Homo sapiens: one gene and its partners. The protein of the gene in region 3 purifies or fractionates together with the protein of the main gene of each other region. This does not show direct contact. Each region holds a gene or a part of one and is shown on either strand. Other genes may lie near its edges. The genes, in order: TCEAL5, JAG2, ZNF74 and PTPRK.

Region 1 (5,223 bases), on a different chromosome or scaffold from region 3:
GAATAGATGAGCTCTCTTTAACATGGCTCAGCTGCTATTTGTGTCTTCCCCTTCTTATCTCTTTGTCAAGTAGCTTCTTCTTTCTGTCCTTTATGGTTTCCTCTTTTTCATGATGTCAACTTGCTTATATAAAATAAAAACATACATCCACACAAAAACTTATACGTGATTGTATATGGCAGCATTATTTATAACAGCTAAAAGATGAAAATGCCTAAATATTCATCAACATATGATGGATAAACAGAATGGGGTGTGCAAATAGAACAAAACACTATTCAGGCTCCTAGGGTACAGATCTTCTTCTCACAAGAGTGTGCATACTCCACTACTTCCTAAACATATGCAATTTTACATGCCCTTTCAGGTGGCCCACAGACTTCATCAATTGGGAATACTTGGTCTAGGTCAATATGGACAGCATGGCAGAACTCCTTAGACACTGGCCTAAATTTGCTGAGACAGTCATAGGTTAGTATGGACTGGCAGGCAGCAATCCTGCAGCAAGGTTAGGCTCCCTCTGGGTTCCCTGAAGATACAGAGTTTGGGGGTGAGAGGCCCGCCAGACTGCACTTTTTAGGCTAGGCGGGAGGTAACAGACAGGGTCTAGGGAGGCTTCCACTCAGGCACTGTGAATAAGGGCAGAGAGCAGGCAGGTTGCAGGGGACTCTACCCCAGCAATCACTTCAGGCCTCATGAACACCCTCAGCTGCAAGGGTCTAGAAGAGATCTGTTCTAGTTTTCTAGAGGCATGAACAATGCTCCACTCTGTGCTGGGGCTGGGTTATCCCTGTGGGAATTAGGGGGAGGGAGGAGGGAAGGAGCCAAAGGCATTTACTCATATCACCACCTTGGTCACCTGTCCAGTTATATTCTTGGACAGATGACTCTTGAGCAACAGAGTCATGTGCCTGGGGATGAGAAATGCAGGGGATGAGAAATTCTAGAATATGAGGGGGTGGAGAAGAACACCTTCCCCTGATCTTGGCAGGGCAGGGAGGATAGGACCATTTCTGCATCCTTCACATCTCCTGCAGCCTTGGTCTCACAGCTCTTCCCTTCCCCTAGAGCTAAACATTTGAATGAAAATAGCCATGAGCCAAATTTTTTAAAGAGACATTTTTGAATTTTCTTTCAACCATCAGATTCCAGCAAGTCTATTTAGCACTCAGTAATCGTTTGGGAACATTAAATGTGTGTGTGTGTGTGTGTGTGTGTGTGTGTGTGTGTGTGTGTGTGTGTTAAATAGAACGTGAGAGAACCAGCTATTTATGAAAAATTTCTAATGTATATTTTGCTTGTTGCCAATTGAATTCCTTGTGTATATGGCAAAAGTTAATATTATGAACCTAATTTGGTCTCTCTTCTGAGTAGAAAATTTTGAAATCTTTTAAGTTTTTCTCTCTCTTAAACACTTTCTCATAAATGAAATAGCTTTATTTAATTTTGTGCTTATAAGAATAACCCATGCTGAGGAGAGTGAATTAAATAAGATCAAAAAAATTTAAAAAAATAAAACCCCTATTTTAACTACTTGTGTCCCTACTTGACAATCCACCTTGTACCCATTATGAGAAGGTCTGGTTCACAGGCAGAATGAACATCAGTGGCTGCGTGTAGAATTAGATCGAGTAGGTGCCTTCGGATAAAAGGAGAGAAAGAAAAAAAATTCCTCTGAGATGTACCAATGGCCAATAGCTCTAGAAGAAGGTGCGGTCCCTCCCTGATAACCACGGAAGAATAAATACATACTACACAGAGAAAGGGCCACATTTGACCTGTGGGATTAGCAAAGACCAAAATGAGTGACAGGGCCCCGTGCTGTGGGGCGAGAGAGAGAGCTAAGCCGGGGTTGGGGGTGCTGAGGGCGCTCAGACGGACAGACTAGTGAAGGGAAGAAGTGGGCTGGCTCCTGACGCACTTTCTGCGGGTGGGAGGGGAACTAGGGACCCGAGCCCACTGGTGACGTTTTTCTCACGTGATCTGAAGCCGACGTGTGCAGAAGTCCCTCTCCTCCAGGTACCAGATCCCTGTTTCCGTGGAGGAAGGCAGACTTCAGACTGAAGGACAGAGAAGGCAACTGCCCTACAGCCCTGCAGGTCGGTACAAGCCGGGGACCCCTGAGGTAGGGATGGTAATGCACATAGGCTACAGAGGATCGGATCTGCTTTCTAGATACCGCCCTGTTCCACCCCCATTCATTTTGGCGCAGAAATTTTTTTGTGTTGGGCAAGAGGTATGGGTACCAGCTTTTATTTCCCTGGAGAAGTGCAGGCTTCTGGCAGAAGGAAATGTGAGAAAGAGTCATTTCCCCGAGATGGCTACGAACCCATCCACAGCCTGTGGATCCCTGTGGTTGGGATGGCAGAGGGCAAAGACCAGAGCGGGTCCAGGACTGGATTCTCTCCACTCCTTTCCCGATGCTCACTCATTTGGTGCAAGAAATGGAGGGCTTGGTGCGGGGCGGGGAGGGGGGAGGGGGGCGGAACTCGAGAGAGGTCAAGGGTTGAGAATTGGGTACCAGTTGGGAACTCCTAGGAAGCCGGCGACCGGGTGATGTCTGATGGAGGAGGAGGAGGACCAGGGAAGAGAACAGCGACGAAACGGCGAGAAAACGGCCTGATCCCTGCAAGGCAGCGGGAGGCGGGCACAGTCAGTGACCCCAGGCTGCTGAGGGCGGACCCTGCAACGGGTCCAGGCCTGAGTTCCCTGTGTCTTTTCTCCAACCTCCCTCCATTTTGGAGCCGGAAACGGTGGGCTAAGGGGGTCAGGGGAAGGAGGTGCTGTAGAAAAAGGGAGACAGAGGTTTGATCTGGGGATCAGCTCCCTATCCAGGAGGAGTGGCTTCTGAAGTAGGAGGATTGAGATGAGGTAGCAGCAAGACCAAAAATGTTACCGGGTTTGGAAATAATTTGTCTCTTGCATTGCAGAAAAATGTGGGCTTTCTGTGTATGTGGGGAGGGAGGAGGTGGCAGGAGTGTTTTGGACATTTCTGCCCTGCCCCCTATCTCTGTCATCACCATTTTCAGAGAAGTGGTGGGCTCTGCTATTTGGCTACCCTAGGGTGAGGGATTTGGAATGTAGAGATCTGAGTGCATCAGAACACTCTGTCTTCAGAACATCCTTGTCTCTAACCCTACTCATTTTCGTGCCAGAAAAGTGAGATAAAAATTTGGGAGGAAGATTCAGAAACATAGAAACGCTTTGGAAATAATCTTTCTCGCCTATTTCCCACAAGTAGAACAATGGAGGCTCTTAAGAAAGAGCTGCGCGCGGAGGGGGAATCAGAGAATGCAAGGGAAAAGGCGAGGAGGTGATAGGAGCTCGGAAAGTTTTGACAAATACGGTCCCAAAGAACCAGTGTCCAAGTTACCAGTCATTCACTTTCTCAATTTCTCATTCACCCACCTGTTTCTTGTCTTTCTGCAGGTCTTCAAGTCTGTGGTTGTGGGCACTAACCCAGACAAGAAAAGGAAAGACCTGCAGTATCGGTGCAGGTCAGTGGGAGAGGGCTACTGCACCAGGACCCTTGGGAGTAGGAGTAACTTAAGCCAGAGCAGAAGTTGGGGAGGCCACTGCCTGCCACCCCTCCTCCAATCCTCCCTCTTGCAGTTTCGGGATACATGACTGCTGTCAAGACCCTAAGGGGATATGGTGATCTATGGCTGGTGAGGATAGAGGGGAGAATAAGAAAGTAAGAGAATGGAGGTGTAGCATCTGTGATGCCCCCTGAGGACATAAGGGTAGCCCTGAAATCTGAGAACTGGCTATGGTTCTGTTCTGTCTGCAGTTTTATAAGTCTTACAACTGCATGCAAGGGGAAAAAGAAGAAAACTGCCCAGGATTTCTGCAGGTCCGTGTAAATTGGAACTACCCAGTTAAAATTGGTATGGGTAGGCATAGCCAAGGCCAGAGCAAAGTTTAAGGGCCAATATGCTCCTACGCATTTCTCAGCACATCCTCCTTAAATGTAGGGAGAAGCACCTGTGGAAGTTTCTGTAAGGTTGGCTTGTGTGAACATGTGTAAAGTGAAAAGGAAAGGAAGGAATGTAAGGGTGGGAGTGCACCTGGAAGATGGGATAGGGCCAGGAAAACCCTAAGTTAAGAAAGACAAGTACTATAAGGACCTGTGTTCAACCCCCAAAGCCCTCAGTGTCCTGTGTCTTCTTTTTGTCTCCTAGGAAAGGCAAAGAAGGGAACATCTCAACATGGAAAAGCTCTACAAAGAAAATGAAGGAAAGCCAGAGAATGAAAGAAACCTAGAAAGTGAGGGAAAGCCAGAGGATGAGGGAAGTACAGAAGATGAAGGAAAGTCAGACGAGGAAGAAAAGCCGGACATGGAGGGGAAGACAGAATGCGAGGGAAAGCGAGAGGATGAGGGAGAGCCAGGTGATGAGGGACAACTGGAAGATGAGGGAAACCAGGAAAAGCAGGGCAAGTCTGAAGGTGAGGACAAGCCACAAAGTGAGGGCAAGCCAGCCTCCCAGGCCAAGCCAGAGAGCCAGCCGCGGGCCGCCGAAAAGCGCCCGGCTGAAGATTATGTGCCCCGGAAAGCAAAAAGAAAAACCGACAGGGGGACGGACGATTCCCCCAAGGACTCTCAGGAGGACTTACAAGAAAGGCATCTGAGCAGTGAGGAGATGATGAGAGAATGTGGAGATGTGTCAAGGGCTCAGGAGGAGCTAAGGAAAAAACAGAAAATGGGTGGTTTTCATTGGATGCAAAGAGATGTACAGGATCCATTCGCCCCAAGGGGCCAACGGGGTGTGAGGGGAGTGAGGGGCGGAGGTAGGGGCCAGAAAGACTTAGAAGATGTCCCATATGTTTAATGTCTTTGGCCTTTAATTCTGATTTCTCTGATGGGAATATTGCCAGTCCTGCTTTTCCTGGCAGGCATTTGCCGGCCTATGTGCTTTAACCTTAAGCTGATACTTTCCTTTAGGTGTCACTCTTGTTACCAGCAGACTTTTGACCCAACTACAGTGCTCTGTCTTTTAGTAGAGGATTTTCACCCATGTGCATGGAATAAATGTTCATGGTACATTGTAAAATAACAATAAAAAAGAGTTTTCAGAACCATGTATACAGTATCAGCCCATTTCTGAAAAAAAATGTTTACATAATATATCCATACATGGGGGACACTATGCAATTGAGTAGATCAAAGAGAAATCATGAATTTCTTTGTGTGGTGGGACTGAAAATTATTCTTTTTCTCATCTG
Region 2 (4,780 bases), on a different chromosome or scaffold from region 3:
CCGTGCCCTGGCGGGGCCTGCAGAGGTGCTGGGTGCGGCATGGGGTGGTGGGGGAGGTGGTGGGGCAGGGGCGGGCCTGACTCCTGACTGTACTGCCTGCCATAGTGATCGATGGCTGCGGGTCAGACGCGGGGCCTGGGATGCCTGGCACAGCAGCCTCCGGCGTGTGTGGCCCCCATGGACGCTGCGTCAGCCAGCCAGGGGGCAACTTTTCCTGCATCTGTGACAGTGGCTTTACTGGCACCTACTGCCATGAGAGTGAGTGGCCACGAACGGCGGGCTGGTGGTGGGGCTGGGCTGGCCTGAGGCCCTGGCTCACCCCGCTCGCCTCTGCAGACATTGACGACTGCCTGGGCCAGCCCTGCCGCAATGGGGGCACATGCATCGATGAGGTGGACGCCTTCCGCTGCTTCTGCCCCAGCGGCTGGGAGGGCGAGCTCTGCGACACCAGTGAGTGTTCCAGCACCCGCCCACACGGCCTGTGCCTCCACCCCTGTGGGCCCCTTATCACCCTGAGATGGACCGCTGTCTGGGTGCGGCAGGCCCCGTACCCAGAAAGGCCTGGCCAGGGGGTGCTGCCACCATGGGGTGGAGTCCCAGGCTGCCCCCATGCCCGAGGCCAGCTCCCCCGGCCCGACGCTCCTCCCCCGCCCCTCTCTGTCCTCACCTGGCCCAGCTCCAGTGCTTCCTCCCCCGGGAAGCCCTCCCTGAGCGCCGGTGACCCCCCGCCCGCTGACCGGCGTCCTCGCCCCCAGATCCCAACGACTGCCTTCCCGATCCCTGCCACAGCCGCGGCCGCTGCTACGACCTGGTCAATGACTTCTACTGTGCGTGCGACGACGGCTGGAAGGGCAAGACCTGCCACTCACGTGAGTGTCCGCAGGCCCTGGCCGCCTGGGGCTGCCCCCAGGACCCTGGCCCTGGCGGTCTGGGGCCTGCCTGCTGAGCGGCCCATGTGCCAACAGGCGAGTTCCAGTGCGATGCCTACACCTGCAGCAACGGTGGCACCTGCTACGACAGCGGCGACACCTTCCGCTGCGCCTGCCCCCCCGGCTGGAAGGGCAGCACCTGCGCCGTCGGTGAGGAGCCCCCGCTGCCTCTGCGACCGCCGGGCATATGCCCTCCCAGGCACCGCTCCCTCGGGCGCGATGGGCCGAGGGGTCTTTTTTGAGGGCCACACCTGCCACCTGCCCCCTGCCCCCTGCCCCCGGGTCTGTCTGCCCTGTCTGGGTTGGGGGCGCGGTATGGAGACCCAGGGCCAGCCCAGGGCCAGGTGAGACGCTCCCTCCTCCTCCTCTCCTTACAGCCAAGAACAGCAGCTGCCTGCCCAACCCCTGTGTGAATGGTGGCACCTGCGTGGGCAGCGGGGCCTCCTTCTCCTGCATCTGCCGGGACGGCTGGGAGGGTCGTACTTGCACTCACAGTGAGTGTGGGAGGGGTGTGGGCGGGGGCCGCTTTCCTCCACCCAGATGACATCCCTGCCCCCGACTCGCCCCCCAGTCCCTTCTGCCAGCCCCTCCCCCTGCTGCCCCTGCCCCCAGCAAAAGGCACCCTCCTTGATGACCCTCCCCAGCCCCACAGCCTGATCACGCCAAGCCAGCCTGGACAGTGCCTGGCACGCTTGGGGGGTGGGTACTGATCCCCTGCGTTCTCTTCTCCCAAACCAGATACCAACGACTGCAACCCTCTGCCTTGGTGAGTGGCACCCTGGGGGCCACAGCAGGGGTGGGTGGGACTTGGCATACCACGGGGGGCCACCTGATGCCCACCCTCTGCTCTGCAGCTACAATGGTGGCATCTGTGTTGACGGCGTCAACTGGTTCCGCTGCGAGTGTGCACCTGGCTTCGCGGGGCCTGACTGCCGCATCAGTGAGTGGCCAGACAGCCCCAGCCCTGGGAGCCCCTCAGCCCAGCCGCGGTGTCAGGAGTCTGGGGACATCAACGTCCACGTCCCTTGAAGGGCAGTGTGGCCACAACTACTTCCTGCCTCTCTTCTGAGCCTCAGTTTCCCCACATGTCTGTGCCCTGTGGGGTTCCTGCTGTATACCCTGCCAAGTGATTAAGTGGGGAGCCCCAGCCTGGGGGACCAGTCCGGGGCCCAGGGAGCTGTGGGGGTTGGAGCGTGCAGCCTGACGTGGGCTCCTCTGTGGCCGCAGGGCTGTTGTCCCTGGGTGTTGGCCCAGCTGTCTGTCCAGCACCCCTTGGCTGGTCCGACGCAGCAGCTGGGGCTAATCCAGGATGGGACAGGCCCACTGCAGAAGCAGACGGAGGAGGGTGCTGTTGGGCCAGGGTCAGGCTGGGCTCAGGAAGGCCTCAGGCAGGCAGCAGCTTGGGCTCGGGGGCAGGGGCTGCTCCTCATTGTCCTGGGGCTTGCGCCTGTGTGCCACTGGCTCCCCGCTGCCCTAGGCCATGCCGGTCCTGCGGTGGGCGTTGGCCTCACTGCACTGAGCAGCGGTGGCTCTCCCTGCAGACATCGACGAGTGCCAGTCCTCGCCCTGTGCCTACGGGGCCACGTGTGTGGATGAGATCAACGGGTATCGCTGTAGCTGCCCACCCGGCCGAGCCGGCCCCCGGTGCCAGGAAGGTAGGCCCCGTGTGATTGCCCTGGGTTGGGGCGGGTTGGGGGGCATGGGTGACACCCAGCCCCGAGGGCCAGATGCCCACTGCTGACCCTCGAGCCCCTTCTCCCCACAGTGATCGGGTTCGGGAGATCCTGCTGGTCCCGGGGCACTCCGTTCCCACACGGAAGCTCCTGGGTGGAAGACTGCAACAGCTGCCGCTGCCTGGATGGCCGCCGTGACTGCAGCAAGGTGAGGGCAGCCCGTGAGCCGCCCTGCCCTACCCGAGGCTGGTGCACGCTGACCCTGGCCACTCTGTGAGATCAGGAGGCGGGTGCTGGGGTCCGGATGGACTGAGAGCCGTCTGCCCTCAGGGACACCCAGGGAGGCGAGAGCTCAGCCAGGCCCCATGCTTCGATGTGCAGTTGGGAAAACAGGCCTGGTCTGGGTCCTGCCTTGCTCCGCCTGCCCTTTCTGATGTCGAGCTTGGCCTGCCTCCCTGGGAGCCCTGGGTAGGGGGTGGGCTGGGCCCTGGGGCTCACAGACTTGGGCGGTGTCCCTCCTTGGCATGGGGCCCGTGCCTGCCTGTGGGTTCTCATCTGTGTGCCTGCATCTGACCCTCCTGTGCGCCTGCGCCTGACCCTCCTGTGCGTGCCTGCCCAGGTGTGGTGCGGATGGAAGCCTTGTCTGCTGGCCGGCCAGCCCGAGGCCCTGAGCGCCCAGTGCCCACTGGGGCAAAGGTGCCTGGAGAAGGCCCCAGGCCAGTGTCTGCGACCACCCTGTGAGGCCTGGGGGGAGTGCGGCGCAGAAGAGCCACCGAGCACCCCCTGCCTGCCACGCTCCGGCCACCTGGACAATAACTGTGCCCGCCTCACCTTGCATTTCAACCGTGACCACGTGCCCCAGGTGAGGGGCCTGGTGGCATCTGAGCTTGCAGAGGCCACACGCCGGCATCTGCTCGTGGCATGGCGAAAGCCTAGCCCCGCAGGGCAGGGAGGCCCTGGTTGGCTGAGCAGAGTCACTCTTGGTCACAGAGAGTGGCCCTGTGGGGTCAGATGAGAGGGGCATTGGGCCTGGTGCTGGGTGGAGGTGGCAGAGGAGGCTGGGAGAGCAGCCAGCTGGGGGTGCCTGTTTGTCCAGCTGCCCTGAGGGCCTGGACTGACGGCGCCATGGCTGCCTGGCCCCAGCTCTTGGGCTGTAGCTCCGTGGGCAGTTTTGCCCTGGCCTAGGAGCCACCTTTGCCTGCTGTGTGCTTGGAGCTGGGCCCCTGTCTCCCAGGAGGGGCTCAGAACTGGAGGAGACCCACTGTACCCCGCCCTGCCTCTCCTTCCCCCACTGGCCTGCAGGTGGAGCTGGGTCCGCCCTGAGGATGGGCGGGTGGGCACCGTCACTCCTGCCTCCTGGTATAGGGCACAGCCGGGTGGGAAGCTGCCCCCCCAGGCCCTTGGCATCCTTGCTGTGCTCTCCTGGGCGGGCTGTAGGGTGTGTCCCACGTGTACCCACAGCGCCAGTCCAGGGATGTAGGTGTCAGGTTCACGGCCCTGCCCTGCCCACGCACTGCCTGTCTCTGCCCAGGGCACCACGGTGGGCGCCATTTGCTCCGGGATCCGCTCCCTGCCAGCCACAAGGGCTGTGGCACGGGACCGCCTGCTGGTGTTGCTTTGCGACCGGGCGTCCTCGGGGGCCAGTGCTGTGGAGGTGGCCGTGGTGAGTGCCCAGTGGGGAGCAGCACCTGGGTGGGCCCTGGGTCCCGTACTATGCAGGTCCTGGCTATGCTGGACAGAGGCTCTGGCGAGGCTAGTCCTGGTGCGGAAGGACTGCGGGCAGGCCTGTCTCCCTGCGGCCCCTCGCTGTCCATGCCGCAGACCCGTGGAACTGCTCCCTGGGCCTGGCCAGCATGAGGGAGATGCAGGGCTGTGGTGTGGAGCCCGCTTCCCCTGCAGCTGCATCCTCGCCCGGTCCCCTGCTCTGTTTTTGTCTCTGTGTCCCTACGTCACAGGCAGCAGGAGAGTCCGTGGGCTTAGTCTGCCCTGGGAGGCCTGCTTTGGGACTGGCACCTGCCCTGGACCTGGGGGGTGTCAGATGTGAATGGATACCAAGGGGGTCGGGTGAGACTGGGGTGGAGACATGCCCGGAGAGGGGAGGGAATGTTCTGGAACATGGTGGGTGGGTGTGCAGAGCAGTGGGTGTGGCCATGGCACAGTGTGGCTGGTGGAGGCCAT
Region 3 (4,780 bases):
GGTGAGGACTGCAGGTAGCCTCTCTTAGTCCCTTGGGGCACAGAACTTGCTGATATATACAAGGTTTCCTTCCTTAGAGTGTAATAACAGTTTCTAGTCTGGGATCGGATCCTTTTGCGTTACTGAGCTTTGAATAGAGTTGCTGGGATTTTTGTACTATTAATATTCTCTCAAATTTTTAAGTTTGAAATTCTTGACTCCAGGAAGCATAGCATCTCACCCAGGACTTAGAGCCTGATACAACAGCCATGTACAGCCCCTGGGTCCCACCGCAAGTTGCCAGGGCCCTGTGGTGTCTATTCAGACCTGCTTTCCCAATCTAGAAGGTGGTGTGGGAATGCATGCCAATTCCCAGCCCCCCTCCCTGCCCCTGGTCCCCGAATTCAGTCATGGTCAGTGTCTACAGCACAACCTTCTGGCATGGGAGAAGGTCACCTGAGGTTAACCCTTTACTTGTAGGGTCCTTAATCAATCTCTGGCTCCTTTGGAACCATGGACACAGAATCAGTCCTGGGTGAGAACCTATATGTCATTTCAGGAATCGGTGAGTTTCAAGGATGTGGCTGTGGACTTCACCCAGGAGGAGTGGGGTCAACTAGACTCCCCTCAGAGGGCCTTGTACCGGGATGTGATGTTGGAGAACTACCAGAACCTTCTTGCCCTAGGTAAAATCCCCCCAGCCCCAGGCTGGGCGTCGGCTGTCAGCCTTCTTCTACATGGTAGATATTAAGGAGAATCCCTTCAGTGCCGGCCCTGGTGCCAGATATATCATGGGGTGGGAAGCAAGGCCTGTGCCTTGGGGCACTCATGGCCAGGGGCCTCGGCCACGCCAGAAGTCCCCAAGGGACAGCGTGGGAGCTGGTAGCATCCTTGCTTGGTGTTTCCCCTGGTCCTGGGATAGGGGCAGGGAGAGAAGAGAAGAAGGTGGGACCCTGGAGCCCAGCTGGCTCTGGAACAGTCCTCAAGCAATGAAGTAAGGACGTCAGCACACGTGGGGTCTTCAGAGTATACACTGGGATTTGGGTTCCAGTCTGAGACCCTCACTGCTTTTGGCCCAGAGGACCTCCTGTTCCCAGAGAGGGTGTCCACTTCACAGGCATTGTCCTTGTTAGGGGGCGGCCTGTAAGGTCGACTGGGCCTGGAGAGCTGCAGCATGCCCAGCCCACTTTCTCTCCACGAGCAGGACCTCCACTGCACAAGCCAGATGTGATCTCTCATCTGGAACGAGGCGAGGAGCCATGGAGCATGCAGAGGGAAGTCCCCAGAGGGCCCTGTCCAGGTGAGCAGAGGCACAGGTGGAAGGGTGCCAGCCCCAGCACCCCTGGTGGCACCTCCTCCTATGGCCCCTATTTTCCTCCCTCAGTTTGCCCCGGCTCCATCTCCCCTTTTCAGGTCCCCCGCCAGACCCTCCTGCCTGCCTCCCTTCAGCACGTACTGAGCACTGCCTGTGTGCTGAGACCTGTTCTGGGATACAACAGGGAACAAACCTGGCCACTGGGACCAAATGGTCACCTGCTGATGGGGATGGGGAGGCAGGAATAGAAATATTGAGCCATTGGTGTTGGCTGGGCAGCCGGGGGTGTGGGATTGGGGGCAGGGGGCCACCAGGGAAGGGGCAGCTGGCGTTGGTCAGTGTCAGGGTCAGCATGAGCATCAGCATCAGGGCCAGCGTCAGCGTCAGGGTCAGAGCCAGCATCAGTGTCAGGGCCAGCGTGAGCATCAGCATCAGGGCCAGTGTGAGCATCAGTGTCAGGGCCATCATCAGCGTCAGGGTCAGAGTCAGCATCAGCATTAGGGTCAGCATCAGCGTCAGGGTCAGGGTCAACGTCAGCGAGGGCTTCCAGGCTGTGGCCAAGATGGCAGCCCTCCGTAAGGGAAAGGGGACTGGGGTGGGTGTTGAGCAGAAGGTAGTCTGCTTTTCTTCTCCAACATTCTTTTTGTAGACTTCTCTTCTGAGTTGGTTGATAAATAAGTGGTAAATTCGGCTTAATTTATTGGACAGTGACTGCTGAGCATGTTAGGTGTCTAGAAAGCTCGAGAAACACCTTTCTGTGGGAAAGGCAGCCGATAAGCTGTGGAGCACAGAACACGGGGGTCGGGGAAGGCAGCCCCTCCTCCATCCCCCTCCACTGCCACATACCACCCAGCCCCAACCTGCAACAGTGGCTGCAGCCCCAGCTTTCTGGTCTTTATTTCTCACCCCAGCCTCTGATGCTTGCTTTGTCCTCTTTAACAAGATTACAGGTTTCAAAAAATTCATATTTTTGTTTGATTCATATATGAATATACTGAAAATGAGGCTGAAAGGTTACTGAAATCCTGCATAATCTTTCCACCCAGAGATGACGGTTCTCTAATAACTGACCATGTCACTGATTCCTCTGGGCCCTTCCTCTGTGTGCGGATAGACTTCTAAAGCTACATGTGGCCAGGCGTGATGGCTCACACCTGTAATCCCAACACTTTGGGAGGCCGAGGCAGGCAGATCACCTGAGGTCAGGAGTTCGAGACCAGCCTGACCAACATAGAGAAACCCTGTCTCTACTAAAATTACAAAATTAGCTGGGCATGGTGGTGCATGCCTGTAATCCCAGCTACTTGGGAGGCTGAGGCAGGAGAATCGCTTGAACCCAGGAGGCAGAGGTTGCGGTGAGCTGAGATCGTGCCATTGCACTCCAGTCTGGGTAACAAGAGTGAAATTCCATCTCAAAAAAAAAAAAAAAAAAAAATTAGCTGGGCGTGGTGGTGAGCACCTGTAATCCCAGCTACTCTGGAGGCTTAGGCAGGAGAATTGCTTGAACCCGGGAGGCAGAGGTTGCAGTGAGCCATGATCGCACCATTGCACTCCAGCCTGTGTGACAGAGCTAAACTCCATCTCAAACAAATAAATAAATAAAGCCTTATGCACCCTCGGAAGCACAGCACTCACGCCGGAGTCTGGCTACCACACTGGCCATGGCATAGTGAGCGTCCTCACGTGATGTTTACTGATTGCACAGTATCCCTTAGATGAATGTGCCCTGCTGTGTTGTTGGCCCTATTGCTGCCAAAACAACTTTTTTCTGGCCTGGGCCTCTTCTCTCTGCTCTGTGCAACTTCCCTAGACTCTTACCTCTCACTTGGTGTGGATGTGGTCTACACTATAGCAACACCAGCTGAGCTGCAGCCCTGTGTCACTGACCATCTCGTGGGCCTCTGCTTGCATGTCTAAAACCAGACTTGGAACTGGCCCTTCCTCCTCCTTTATAAAAGCTTCCACCATCCACCCAGGCTTGGGTGTTTGCTGAGGTCTCATCCTCTCCCCCATTTCCTCTCTTGCCACCTTCAGTCAACAGCTAGGGCCATCAGTTTTAGCACCTAAATGGCTCTTAGATCTGCTGCTTCCTGTTCATTTTCACAGCCTTGGTTCCAGTCTGAAGTTGCCATTTTTCACCTGAATTATTCAGATGGCCTCCCTAACTGGCCTCCCTAACTGCTGGCTCCAACCACCTTACACACCACCAAAGCCACCTTCAAGACAAACCATTATGCCAGGCACAGGGACTCACACATCTAATCCCAGCACTTTGGGAGGCCAAGGCAGGAGGACCACTTGAGCCCAGGAGTTGGAGGCTGCAGCGAGCTGTGATTGCACCCCTGCACTGCAGCCTGGACAACAGAGCGAGACTGTGTCCCCGCCCTCTGCTTCCCCCGCCCCCCGTCAAGACACCATATGATCACATCACCCTCTGTGCAAAAGGCCTTTCTTCCCCGGCTGCCCTCTGAGTCAGGCATCTGGTCACCTCGAACCCATCCACCTTGCCAGGGTCACCTCTCAGCCTTCCTGCCTCTGCGTGTCTTGTCTTCATCTTACTGTCTCACCTCTGAGCTTCTGCACATGCTGTTCACTCTCCACCTGGCTACCTGCCATGTGTGCCATGGCCAGTTCCACTTGCCCTGCTCTTCTGCATGTGTTGGGGCCACAGGCAGCACCACCATGCAGCTCTGCCCGCTGCACTAGACTGCTCCCTTTTAAGCCTGGGGAGGACAGAATTAGAAATAAAATCTCCTGCCAGCTCAGAAAACCTTGCTATAGAGATAGAAAAGAAAGAAAGCCTTCTTATTGAATAAGTGTTTAACCAGATGTGGTGTACAGGAGAGAAAGAAACCTCCCCCTTTGACAGAGGAGACACATCCAACCCAGCACACAGGGCAACTGTCTTCACCTAAAGGAAGAGTACAGCTTTTTGGGTTTTGTTTGTTTGTTTGTTTTTTGAGACAGGGTATCCCTCTATTGCCCAGGCTGGGGTGCGGTTGCATGATCATAGCTCGAAGCCTCAACCTCCCTAGGCTCAGGTGATCCTCCCACCTCAGCCTCCTGAGTAGCTGGGACTATAGACAGGTACCATCATTCCTGGCTAATTTTGTATTTTTTGTAGAGGGGTCTCACTGTGTTACCCAGGCTGGTCTTGATCTGGGCTCAAGTGATCCGCCACCTTGACCTCCCAAAGTGCTGGGATTACAGGTATGAGCCACCGCGCCCAGCCTCTTGTAGCTTTTTGACAAGCAGGAAGTTACATCTTGGACTCGACTCTTGGACTAGGCTCATTTTGCTTCTGAAAAGGTTTGCATGCGTCTCGAGACAGAGAAAGCATTTGCAATTCCCAGTGTTCTAAAGGGAAGCGCTGGGGTGTGGGGAGCCCTTTTTTCCTTTTGGCACCACAGACAATTTTTAATTCATTTGTTAGTCCTAGCTACTCGGGAGGCTGAGGCCGGAGAATGGCGTGAACCTGGGAGGCGG
Region 4 (4,780 bases), on a different chromosome or scaffold from region 3:
GCAGTGTTTCCCAGAATTAAATGTTCCATCAAATCACCTGGGGATTTCATCAAAATGCAGATTCTGATTCAGTAGATCTGGGGTGACTCTGATGATCACAGATCATCACAAATTTCCAGATGATGCTAATTATATTGGTCCATGAACCACAAAATCCCAGGACACCTTGCAGTGAGGAATCCAATGACCATGAAGCAATCAGTCATCAATCCCTGGGTGGGTAGTGAGGACCCTAGAAAGCCTTCCTCTCTACTCTTGAATTTACTGAATGACCTAAGAAAAATCACATCAAGGAACTGTTGCCAGTCTGTCACTTAAGCAGCTGCTAGGTCACCTCCACTATCCAACACGGATTAAGGGAATTTCTGTGGCTGGTCAGCTGCTGCCTTGAACAGCGCTTGGAGAATCGGCCTATGAGCAGCTGGTTAAGGAACAGGCTGCACTGGGAAGGGTTTATATTAATAGATACCAATCTGGAGAAAGATTTATTATTTTATCCTTAAAAGTATAACAGTATAGTATAGTATACAGTATAGATTATATACAGCTTATTTTCCACTTGTTTCTACATCTATGAAATAAAGTAGTGATCTATTTTCACTACTCTTTCCAAAAATGTTAAGTATGGAGTTTTGATACCATCTCTAGATGCCCTTACCTTCTTTCTAACCTAAATGTTTCTACAACTAAGTCCTAGCATTGTTAAGATGTGTGTGTGTGTGTGTGTGTGTGTGTGTGTATTCACACAGAGGACTACATACTTACATCTTTCACATTTCCCAACAAAATAAATACAAACAATAACTCCACTACGCACTATTTTATTTTGCCTTGTTTCTGAATTCCCCTTATTAAAACAATTCCTAGAATGACACCTGTTGGAGGATTCAGCCAGCACTGCCCTGTTCATCATTTTCATTATCAGAGCTCAATAATCATATCAAGTGGAAACACGGATTATTCCATTTAGGACAACTTAATTTGATCCTAAAACAACTGTAAGTGACAAAATAAGCCACTTGTAATTTTTATGGATTATCAACACACGAAGGAGAATGCCAAAAATTTCAACCAGAGTTAAGTGGGGAAATGGCAATGTTCCACGAGAGGATCAATGTGATCCTTAGATCCCAGGCCCAGTGTTTTCCCAGAACCTCAACAATCTAAAAAAAACCTCACGAAACTAAGTTTTAAAATTACATACACTTAGTTTTCATTATTAAAATATTAAATACAGATCAAAAGAATTCCCACAAGAATACAAAAGGAAAATAAACATACTTCCCACAACAGAATCTTCATGAAACTTTAAAAACCTTTTATGTGAAACTACGTTTCTTTAGGAGTATTTTCACAAAACACATTTGCACTAATGTGGAGTGTGAAGTTTACAAACTATTCAGAGTTCACACTGATATCAAACATCATAACATTTTTTCAGTTTTCCAAGGCATAGTTGTATGTAACTTATCTCACTTATCTCAAAATATCAAGCAATGTGGTTCTGAAATTGTCTATCCCCATTTATAAAAGGGAACTTAAAGACTTCAGAAACAGCAACAAATAAATGTTCTGTGACATTAAAAGATTAGTTCATGGATATGCAAGTTTGCTTTTTGCTTCAATTGAAATAAAAAATAGCCTGATTAATGTATTATTCACTTACTTTGTTATCAAATACTGTTTTAAGACCTATCATGAATTGATGTCTTGTACTTTTTTTTTTCAGTACTATGACAAACAGCATGAGTTTTGATTAAAAAAACAAGTCATGTTCAAAAGCAATTACAACCTTTTTAGGCAAAAAGAAACACCATTTGAAGAAGGAACACAGACCAGATACATATGATCAAAGTGTAAAGACTGAGAAGAATACACAGAGGGAAATTTTTACATTGACAGAACTAGAAAATGTGTTTGCGCAAAGGCAAAGGCTGATTTCAATAAACAAGTCAAAAATACCATAGGACTTTTTTCCTCTTCTAAAAATTAAGTAAAAGATCAAAAACACATACACACACTCACACACACACATACACGTGCACACACACAGAATCCCTGTGTTCTTTGTTTTGTCTTTAAGAACAATCTGTAAACTTTCTTGATGCTTCCTGCTCTCAATCTTCCAGCATCTCTCTTCCTGCACTCCATGAAAAGCAAGTAGGGGAAATGGGAGCAGCACAGATCCCTATTTAGCATGATGTTCACTGTCTTTAATACCAGTTTGAGTAGACCTGGTATACTGCACTTTAAAAATATTAGTAGCCAACACACTTTTTCTATATGGAATCTTATCACATGAATTAAATATTACCTTAAAGGCCAGAAAAACCTGTAACAAACCATCATTGCTAGAAATATGAGATTTGGTGGGAATGTTGGCATTAGCTTTGGTTAGTGGATGAGTCATATTTCCAGTTCTTAAGGACATGTACAGCACTAAAATATATTTGGCAAAAACAAAAGGGCTGTGATCTTGTGTATATATATGTGGGGCTCTGTTTTTGCTAGAAAAGAGTAGGAGGGAGTGTGGGAGGGGGCAGAGTGGCAGAGGGGTTGATTTATTTTTGAAATTCACTTTTATGAGCACAAAGAGAAGAGCTGTCAGCAGCACACATGCCAATGTCCAAACAGCAGCCAGACTCTCCTCTTTCCGTCTGGGTAGGCCAGACACAAAACTACATCTCACGACCTAGGAAAATCAAGAGTCAGATGCAAGAGAACTAGAGAGAGAAAAAAAAACAGTCCTGGAAATGTCCAGCTACATATGATTGCTAGTGATTAGAACGTGGAGTTTTAATGAATTGAGGGATCGAGGGATATTTAGCCAATCAAAACCAAAAAAAACTAACAGGCAAACCTTAAAGCAAGCTGGCTCCAAAGTATCTTCCTAGCAGGTAATAAGTATAAGAGAAATTAATCTCACCTAAAGAGACAACAAGGAGTCAGATACTGCTCAGGTGCTGCTTAGATGAGTTACAGCATTCTAAGTGCACATCAACAGGGTGACATGTCAGGAACTATAGACAAAGCAGGATCTCGAGCTGTATTTCCAGGCTCCTATCATACAAGAGAGACAATAGTCCCTCTCTAGGTCATTGATAAGACTGCATCTAGAAAGCTACATATTATTCTCAACACAGAGTTGAAAACCTGAACCAACAGTTAAACAAACAGCTAAAGAAACTGACTAAAAATATTTTTTTCTGTAGTTAGAAATGCCAGGAATGTTAATAGTGACTCTTCCATGGGTCTAACTCAAGTAAGGATTTATACGAGGTAAGTTAAAAAAATTAAGGATAATCGATCATTGTGCTGACAAAATTATGGTCTGGCCAATCTAGTATGTTTATGTTTAACAATAACTATGTTAAACAATAATTAAATGAATGACTGGCTGAGTGAAAACACACACACACATGCACACACACACGTGCGCACACACACACTCACACACAAATCCTGAACAGCCTGCACTTACTGGAGAGAGAATTTGGAAGGAGTAAAAAGCTGAGACTAAGGCACTTAATGATGATTACACCCCAGATAGCTGCACAGTGCTTTACAATTTACAGTGCTAGTTCCCATAAATTACTTCATTTAATCATAAAAAACATGTGGAAAGGTCAAGTTGGGTATTATTATCCCCATTTTACAGAGGAGAAAGCTGAGTTTCCAAGTCACCTTACCTGCATCTGGTTTCGTCAGTCATCTAAGTCCTTCTACAGAAAACTTTCTTACATTATATCAAGAGATCACAGCTATACAACCCAGTGAATAAACTTTAATACTTCTTTATTCTTCTATGCCTCGGTTTCCTCAGATATGACATGGGTGTCATTTTAAGTGAGAGGTGAAACTGAAAGAATGTATGAGTTGGGATTTACAGAACGTTCTGGTTTTAAAGAGGCTCACAGTGCAGCAGTTTTACACTTTAACTGCAAAAGCTAAGAAAAAAGTCACAATAATGAAAACACTCTTACATTTTTGGTTTAAACAAAGAAAACTGAATAAGTATATGACACATCAAAGTCCCAACAATGCTCAGCCTTTCAAAATTTGCTTTTGAAGCTTACTACATTAGGAACCACATGATATCGGAAAGTAAACTGATCTTAATGAGTATGATTTGAAAGACATACTTCAGATATTTTTAAATTCTCAACATGAATTTGTCTTGGACTTTTAAAGTGGGTTTATTTAAATTTCTCAAAAGGAATAAAAGTTCACTAGTTAAAGTAAAATATAAGAAAAACCAGCAATATGGAATACACCTCCAATCTTCAATACATCTCTAATCTATGTCTGCAACAAATCTGACTGCCATAGAATTTTATGACAATAAAATATCAAATGATTTATGGTAGCCAGAAAAAAAAGGAAGTATTTACAAAACAAACTTATAATTTGTGGAGAAAGGCAAATCCACAATCTGACTTTAAACTCTGGGAATAAAAGACATTCATTTCTGGGCATACATTCCTAAAGGGCAAAATCTTGAGATGCAATCCTGTGATTACTGTACTTTTTAGGAATGCACATTATATTAATTAAATATACAACATCATGTCAAATGTTATGCTTTGTCACTAAAGAAAAGCCAGGCATATTTAGTTAAAGTACTTAGAACTAGATATCTAAGAACACAATTGTTTATTGTACGTATCTAAACTCCAGGTATCAGAAAAGCTCATTTTCACATTCAGCTGGAGGAAAAGTAGTATTTATTTGTTAATTAAAGGGTAAATAACATTTAAAAAGAGAAAAAGTTTTCTAACTG

What was found.
Region 1: the proteins of ZNF74 (region 3) and TCEAL5 purify together in Homo sapiens (affinity purification with mass spectrometry; one large-scale study listed by BioGRID and IntAct). This does not show direct contact.
Region 2: the proteins of ZNF74 (region 3) and JAG2 purify together in Homo sapiens (affinity purification with mass spectrometry; one large-scale study listed by BioGRID and IntAct). This does not show direct contact.
Region 4: the proteins of ZNF74 (region 3) and PTPRK purify together in Homo sapiens (affinity purification with mass spectrometry; one large-scale study listed by BioGRID and IntAct). This does not show direct contact.

What each region holds. Positions count from the first base shown.
Region 1 is NC_000023.11:103,273,549-103,278,771, reverse strand, and holds TCEAL5 (transcription elongation factor A protein-like 5), read left to right. Parts: upstream 1-2,021; 5' UTR 2,022-2,099; intron 2,100-3,429; 5' UTR 3,430-3,497; intron 3,498-4,181; 5' UTR 4,182-4,208; coding exon 4,209-4,829; 3' UTR 4,830-5,081; downstream 5,082-5,223. UniProt on the Homo sapiens protein: May be involved in transcriptional regulation.
Region 2 is NC_000014.9:105,144,415-105,149,194, reverse strand, and holds part of JAG2 (protein jagged-2 isoform a precursor), read left to right. Parts: coding exon 1-25; intron 26-105; coding exon 106-258; intron 259-336; coding exon 337-450; intron 451-755; coding exon 756-869; intron 870-965; coding exon 966-1,079; intron 1,080-1,306; coding exon 1,307-1,423; intron 1,424-1,667; coding exon 1,668-1,695; intron 1,696-1,783; coding exon 1,784-1,869; intron 1,870-2,470; coding exon 2,471-2,584; intron 2,585-2,694; coding exon 2,695-2,810; intron 2,811-3,221; coding exon 3,222-3,464; intron 3,465-4,133; coding exon 4,134-4,265; intron 4,266-4,780. UniProt on the Homo sapiens protein: Putative Notch ligand involved in the mediation of Notch signaling. Involved in limb development.
Region 3 is NC_000022.11:20,400,094-20,404,873, forward strand, and holds part of ZNF74 (zinc finger protein 74), read left to right. Parts: intron 1-538; coding exon 539-665; intron 666-1,183; coding exon 1,184-1,279; intron 1,280-4,780. UniProt on the Homo sapiens protein: May play a role in RNA metabolism.
Region 4 is NC_000006.12:128,513,663-128,518,442, forward strand, and holds part of PTPRK (receptor-type tyrosine-protein phosphatase kappa isoform b precursor), read right to left. Parts: intron 1-4,780. UniProt on the Homo sapiens protein: Regulation of processes involving cell contact and adhesion such as growth control, tumor invasion, and metastasis. Negative regulator of EGFR signaling pathway. Forms complexes with beta-catenin and gamma-catenin/plakoglobin.